2 linked regions of the Homo sapiens genome follow. The protein of the gene in region 1 interacts with the protein of each later gene in a pairwise test. Each region holds a gene or a part of one and is shown in the gene's direction. Other genes may lie near its edges.

Region 1 (3,816 bases):
AACTTGATCTGGGTCTTCAAAAATATTTTTAGGTTAGTACTATCATAAGTTTCAAATAGACTCTCAAACGTATTTTTTTCATCTAGGTATTTTTGCAGTGTTGAAGGAAAAGTGCGGACAAATTCATAAAGCTTTACAAGGGTGAGTTTTATATATTTTCAACCAACATAAAGTTTATCTGCACCACACTTAACAACTAATGGAAAGTTTTAAATTTCTAGGCTTGGGTCAGTTTGACCAGATTGCAGCTAAGAAACCAAAAACTTAGTTCACTCACATTGGTTTATTTGTGTAAAACCAGATCATCTGTTTTAAAGAATCGTGACTTTGTTTTTCTGAAAATGAAACAAACTCATTAATAAAATATTACAGCAGTACAGAAGATAGAAAGATGAAAATAACAACCCAACATCTTACCACCAGAAATAACCAGGGTAAACACTGAAGCATCTCTCCATGTCTGCACACACAGGGATGCCATTATATATTATGTAATTAGATGACTGGGTTCATACCATCTGTGTTACTTTTTAATAAATTACTAAGTTTTAACACAAGAAAAAGAAACAAGTGAAATTTTATCAGTGTTTTTTTTTTTTTTTTTTTTTTTTTTTTACTACACAAGAGTCACTTTTTTTTTTTTTATTATACTTTAAGTTTTAGGGTACATATGCACATTGTGAGGTTAGTTACATATGTATACATGTGCCATGCTGGTGTGCTGCACCCACTAACTTGTCATCTAGAAGAGTCACTCTTTAAGATTCCTCTGTAGTTAAAAAAAAAAAAAAATGGAGGTTGGTGATATCTCCAGGCACATTTCTGGTCTTATATAAAGTGATTTCACATTGCCCGAGGTCTTTCTTTTTGCCTTTCCTAAGGTTAAACATGCTTTCTTGGTCATGAAAGTCCTATCTGTGTTCCGGATATGGAAACTGGAGACTTAACTGAAAGAAAAGGACAATTGATAAATGAGTACATCACAGCTGTTCCAGATAAAGAAGGGGCAGAGACATTAAAGTTCTGGGTGTGTCTGTGTGATAGTAACAGCAGTTCTTGCATGATTTATGGTAGAGAGATATATTTGTATTGGTTCCAGTTCCATTGGTTTGTGAAATATTAATATGCCAACACAGCCTAGCATATTGGAGTCACTGGAAATGCATCAGTGCTAGCCTTACATGCCTTTCACTCTATGGTGTTAACCTGCCTTTTTCTAAGTCTAATCTCCACTTACCCCAGCTGTATCACACTTTTTCTTTCCAAAATTCCTAATCCTCTGTCTTCACTCCCCTCACTTTTAGCTAACAGCCTGGCCTTATGCTGTCACTTGGGACTCTGTCATATTTCCTGACAAATCTACACACCTGTGGGTATCTGAACCAGTCTTCCCTCCTGTAGACCAGTAAATGTTGCTCCAACTACCACAGGCCCTTTTTTTAAGGACTGAGTGCCTTTGCTTGTCCCTGCTACTTTGTCATCAGCCTGTCCCCTTTCTTGTGTTATTTGATTAGCAGTCATGTCCACTTTAAATTCCTCTTGCCTGTCACCTGACGTTTCCCTCTGCAACTCCCCATGTCTTTGCTCCTCTCAGTAGCTATCATCTCCACGTCTTCACTTACACTGGCAGCTCTGAGACCTGGCTTCTGCTACTGCCCTTCGCCTGGACTGTTTTTGTGGAGGTCTCCACTGACTGCTGAATCCAGTGGACCATCTTCAGAGCTCATCTTCTTGATGTCCCCATAGTTTTCAGCACAGGTGACCACTCTTTCCTTCTTTGGACTCTGCTACACTGCACGCCTGGATTTCCTTTTACATCTTTGAATGGCTCCATCTCGGTCTCCTCTGAAGGCTTTCTTTCAACACCTTGCTCTTCAAGGCTTTGTCTGTGCTTCTCTTTTCTTCTCATTACCTTCTTGAAGAATTGCCTTCTCCCACACCTGGAGCTCCACATCGTTTCATGACACCTGTATAGAGACAGCTCCCAGCTTCGTATCACCACCCTGGACCACTGCAGCTGCAGGTCTCACACCCAGTTGCCTACTCAGTATCCACAGTTGGAAGACTCCATGGCACCTCACAGTAAACACACATTCATAAGGGTCGCAGGGGCAAACCGTGCTGGTATCTAGATGGTTACAGAGAACAGTAAACAAAATAGCAAAGAGGCCAATGTGACAGGAGGAAAGGAGTGGGAAATCTGGTGGAAGATGAGGGCTGGGTCATGGGCCATCCGCACACAGGGACTTGTGAGCCGTGATGAGGACATTGGCACACAGAGGAAGCCCTGGCATGGTTTTGAGCAAAAAAGTGAAACAGCCTATCTGATACCCTAGCAAAATTACTTTTGCATGGTGTGAAAAAATACATTGAACAGCAGTAAGAACAGAAGCAGGGAGACCAGTTAGGAGATTGACGCAGGTGAAAGGTGATAGTGACTCTGACCATGTTGGGAGCCATGACCTGCGAAGTGTCTGGATTCTGGGTATCTTCTGAAGGGAGAGCACACTGGATCTAGCAGAAGTTCATATGCAGGGTGAGTGAGAAAGAGAAGACTCCAGGTAGAGCTCAGGGGGTTTGGTCAGAGTAAATAGGTAGAGTTGCTAATGAGTGAGAGGGACAGAACTGTGGAGAAATACCTTCTGGGGAAGGTCAGCAGTGGTTATGTTAAGCCCAAAGTGCCCATCAGACATGGAGTGCAGAGCAGCAGCTGGATATACAAGTCTGAAGTGTGAGGGAGAGTACTGAGCTAGAGATAAATGTTTGAGTCTTGGGGTATGGATATTATATGAAGCATTTCAGTGTGAAGAGGTCAGAAACTAGCAAAGACTAGTCTGAGAAAGAGTGGCCAGTGAGGAAGAGGCAGGCTGGAAGAGCCTAGAGTCCTGGAAACCAGGGAAGAAATTGCTTATGTAGGAGGTCAGCCTGTGACATGCCGCTGCTGACAGGCCAGACCAGATAACAGAACACTGATCCTTTGACTTCGTTATGTAGAGGTATTATGACTTGGTGAGTAGTTTCAGGGGAGTGTGGGGTAAAATGCCTGCTTGAAGGAGGTTCCAGACAGGTGGACACGGCCTAGATGACTGTTTTGAGGAGTTTTTCTCTGAAGAGGGACTAAGAAACAAGATGGTGGCTGGAGAAAGAAATTGGTCAAGAGAAGAATATTTCAGTTTAAGATTACTGAGATCAATTTCTGAATAACATCTGGCTAAGTATAAAACATCCTTTCTCCTACTGGTTGACAGTACTGTATCATATACCAGGTTCCCATTTGTACCTAGATCTGTTTTTAAACTGTCTCTTCCATTCCATTGGTATATTTGCTCATTCCTCAGACTCTTTTGATTTTGTCTGTTTTTATCACTGTTTTGGAATACAGGTTTATCACTAGTGTCTGTTTTTATCACTGTTTTGGAATATGGGTTTCTCCAAAATTATTGCTAGAATCTTAATTGGAACTGCATTAAATTTTCTGATGAATGTGGAGGGAAATGTCATCCATGAACATGAGCTCTCTATTTAAATCTCCCTTTGTGTCCTTTAATGGAATTCCTATAAAGCCCTTGTACCTTTATGGAACCTTTAAAGGGAATTTTCAGACATCCTATAGATTTTGTTGCTGTTATGAATGGGGTTGTCTTTTCTGTTATATTTTCTACTTGATTATTGCTGATTCATAAGAATATTATTATTTTCTCTAAACTGACCTTATATCCAGGAGTCTTTCTAAACTCTTAGTATTTCCAGTAATTGTTTCATTGTGTTATGATGATGTGCATGGAAGTCCTGTTATCTGCAATAATGGTGTTCTCT
Region 2 (3,816 bases), on another chromosome or scaffold:
CCCCCCATCGCCAATGCCTGCAGGGCCATTTCATTCAGTCCCACTACAGAATCTGAGACCAAGAACAGTAGAGGGGCCGTCTGTCCCTGGAGCTGCTGCTGGGGTCTCAGGCAGCTGGGAGCTCACATCCCACCCCCGAAGTGGATACTAGAGGTGTTCGGAGTATGGGGAGCCCTTCCGCTCACACAGCCTGCCCTTCCCACAGTGCTCAGCGCTGTCCAAACTGAACGCCGAGGTGGCCTGTGTCGCCGTGCACGATGAGAGCGCCTTTGTGGTGGGCACAGAGAAGGGGAGAATGTTCCTGAATGCCCGGAAGGAGCTACAGTCAGACTTCCTCAGGTTCTGCCGTGAGTACCCCAGGGCTCCGGAGGGCCGGGCCCGCCATTTCCCGAGGGCAGGCGCTCTAGCCCATCTCTGGGTCCCCAACCCTGTCTAGCCAGGGTGGCGGTGTGTGGGGAGTGAACCTAACAAGCTAGGTTGTCTGAGATTCCCGATGTGGTGTTATTGAGGCAGCCCCTGAGTTGATAGAGACTGGCTGGGTGAACCCCAGGGTAGGCCAGAGCCAGCCACTTCCATCTGCCTTTTCCAGATGGGGACACCAAGGCCAAGGCTGCTGCTCAGTTCTTCCTCTTAACTATGTATTCCTGAACACAAGGACCAAATGCACTTATGCCAACACAATTTTTTTTTTCTTTAAATGAGACAGAGTCTTGCCCTGTCACCCAGGCTGGAGTGCAGTGGCACAATTTTGGCTCACTGCAACCTCTGCCTCCCAGGTTCAAGTGATTCTCCTGCCTCAGCTTCCCGAGCAGCTGGGATTACAGGCACCTACCACCACGCCCAACTAATTTTGTATTTTTAGTAGAGACGGGGTTTCACCTTGTTGGCCAGGCTGGTCTCGAACTCCTGACCTCAGGTGACCCGCCCACCTCAGCCTCCCAAAGTGCTGGGATTACAGATGTGAGCCGCCATGCCTGGCCATGTTCCAATAAGATTTATTGAATGCCTGCTGTACATAGCATCTTTTCTGATGCTAACTCACCTACCCTGACATCAACCTGAGGGGGCAGGCACTGTCATGGCTATAGTCAGGGTTAACATCTTAGGCCAGGTGCAGTGGCTCATGTCTGTAGTCCTAGCACTTCGGGAGGCTGAAATGGGAGGATCACTTGAGCCCAGGAGTTGGAGACCAGGCTGGGCAACATAGCAAGGCCTCTGTCTCTACAAAAAATTTAAAAATTAACCAGGCTTGATGGTGTACACCTGTAGTCCCAGCTGCTTGAGAGGCTGAGGCAGGAGGATCACTTGAGCCTGGGAGTTCAAGACTACAGTGAGCTACGATGGCACCCCTGCACTCCAGCCTGGGTGACAGTGAGTCCCCATCTCAAAAGAACCATGGTATAGCATGAGGTTAAGAGAACGGGCCGCCTGGGTCCACAACTGCTGTGCCTCAACCCACTCATCTGTGAAAGGGGAGGACGGGTGGGTCTGAGGGTTAAACGAATTGGTACCTTGCAAGCACTTAGGGCAGTGTCTGGCACTTGGTTCACACTCAATAGACACCAGCTGTTGTTACTATTATTAGTATTCACCTCACACCCCTAAGATCAGCTGTTTCAGGGAAGGGCATCCCCCAGCGCTGGGCCTAGCATTACTGGGGTGCAGCCGCATCCCCAGCCAGCCCCCCACCCCCCTCAGCCCTCAGAGCCTAGACCTTCTCCAGGGCCAGGATGGGGGACTGGGCCGGGTAGAATGGACAGCAGCAGGTCGTGTGGCACCCCAGCCGCCCAGAGCCTGAGGCGGTGCACCTGCCTTCTAGAGCCACGCAGAGCCGCTATTTATAGCACCAGGAACTCGGCTGGTTTATTTCAAGCTCCGCAGATCCCAGAGGAGAATAGGCTCCAAGCTGGGAGGGGGCCGCAGGCCCCTCCTCTCATCTCCTTTCCAATGCAGCTTCTAGAACATTCCCCAAGGATCCACCAACACTCTCCGGTCCCCACCCTGGCCCAGCCTGGCATGAACCTGCTGTTTGCAACCCACGGCCTCCTTGGAGCAGGGGTTGGGGGGTGCCTCCCAACCCTCTGCCGGAGGGTTTTCTCTCCCTCCGGCAGAGCAGAAAACGGTGGCATAGATTGGTCAAGACAGTGTTCGTGTCAGAGCACAGAAAGGCATGGATGGGGCCGGGCATGGTAGCTCACACCTGTAATCCCAGCACTTTGGTCAGGAGTTCGAGACCAGCCTGGCCAACATGGTGAGACCCCATCTCTACTAAAAATACAAAAATTAGCTGGGTAAGGTGGCAGGCGCCTATAATCCCAGCTACTCGGGAGGCTGAGGCAGGAGAATCACTTGAACCCTGGAGGTGGAGGTTGTAGTGAGCCAAGCTTGTGCCACTGCACTCCAGCCTGGGCAACAGAGCGAGACTCTGTCTCAAAAAAAAAAAAAAAAAAAAAAATAGAAAGACACAGATGGAACATTCATCGAACCTCAGTTCTGAGCTGGAATAGCTGGCCTCCCGTGAACATTCACAGACTGAGGCTCAGAGAGAGAAGGGACTAACCCAAGGTCACACAGCAAATTAGAGGTGACCAGAGGTGAGGCCCAGCCCTGGGAACTCTGAGATGACCAGCCCTGGCCCTCAGTGGGGTGGTTGGAATAGGGCTTGCTCACTCATTAATTCTTCATTCATTCATTCACTTGTGTATCACATTGTGTGCCAGTCTCCGCAGCTCAGCACAGGGCAGCGACATCCCAGCTCGAAGGCCGGGTGGTGAGACGGGTGCTCACTGTGGCCTCGCGTGCTCTGTGTCCCACAGGAGGGCCCCCGTGGAAGGATCCGGAGGCAGAGCACCCCAAGAAGGTGCAGCGGGGCGAGGGTGGAGGCCGTAGCCTCCCTCGGTCCTCCCTGGAACATGGCTCAGATGTGTACCTTCTGCGGAAGATGGTAGAGGAGGTGTTTGATGTTCTTTATAGTAAGATCCTTCCTCATTCCATTTGGGGGCCCCAGGGAGGGTGGGAGCCTCGGTCCCCACCCAGCAGAGGGGGCCCCCTCCTGTCCCACTATGGGCCCTGGGCAAAGCCGGACCCCAAGGCATGGGGCTACTGGCTACCCCAGCCCTTCCTCATCTCTGCATTCCCAGACACAGAAGTTCTGCTCCAGCCGTTTTCCAAACCTCCACCCCTACTGTCCCTGCCCTGGCTCAAGTCACTGCCACCTCTCGCCTAGAAATAGCCCCAGGCTTGCCACGGTCTCCCTGCTTCCAGACCAGCTCTCTACACCTGCCCTGCAACCAAGGGTATCTTCTCAAAGCACAAGTCTGATCATTAATGAAGCTCTTCTCTCCACAGCCTTCGGGGGCTCCCCATCACCCTGAGCATGGCACAGGGGCCCACACACCCATCCTCATCCCCTCCACACCTTCTTCTCCCACTAGGTGACAGGGCCCTACTGACCTCTCTACAGAACCACTTCCAGTTCTCCAGCACTCGCTGGTGCATTTCACATGCCCTGGACTTCGCGCTGTTACATCTTTTGAGACTGCCTTTCCCCTCCTGTGTCTGGCAGACACCTGCGTGGCACTGAGGCTCTGCTCCTGGAAGCCCCCTCACAGTGGGTTTAGGCCCCTCTCTTGGCACCCACAGTGCCCTGTCCCCTCTCCAGCCCAAGAGCTCTCCAGAGTCAGGGGCTGTGTCTGCCCTTTCTAGCTGTCTCCAGCCTACAGTTCAGAGCCCAGCAACAGCAGGTGCTTGGAGAATGTTTGTTGAATGACTAAGTGAAGGCTGATTGCTCAGCCATGTCTTTCCTGCAGGAAGAGG

Evidence for each region.
Region 2: the proteins of SPTLC1 (region 1) and GTF2IRD1 interact in a two-hybrid assay, tested with the Homo sapiens proteins (one large-scale study listed by BioGRID).

What each region holds. Positions count from the first base shown.
Region 1 is NC_000009.12:92,042,324-92,046,139, reverse strand, and holds part of SPTLC1 (serine palmitoyltransferase 1), read left to right. Parts: intron 1-86; coding exon 87-141; intron 142-3,816. UniProt on the Homo sapiens protein: Component of the serine palmitoyltransferase multisubunit enzyme (SPT) that catalyzes the initial and rate-limiting step in sphingolipid biosynthesis by condensing L-serine and activated acyl-CoA (most commonly palmitoyl-CoA) to form long-chain bases.
Region 2 is NC_000007.14:74,512,625-74,516,440, forward strand, and holds part of GTF2IRD1 (general transcription factor II-I repeat domain-containing protein 1), read left to right. Parts: intron 1-205; coding exon 206-347; intron 348-2,720; coding exon of another isoform or gene 2,721-2,816; coding exon 2,817-2,972; intron 2,973-3,816. UniProt on the Homo sapiens protein: May be a transcription regulator involved in cell-cycle progression and skeletal muscle differentiation. May repress GTF2I transcriptional functions, by preventing its nuclear residency, or by inhibiting its transcriptional activation.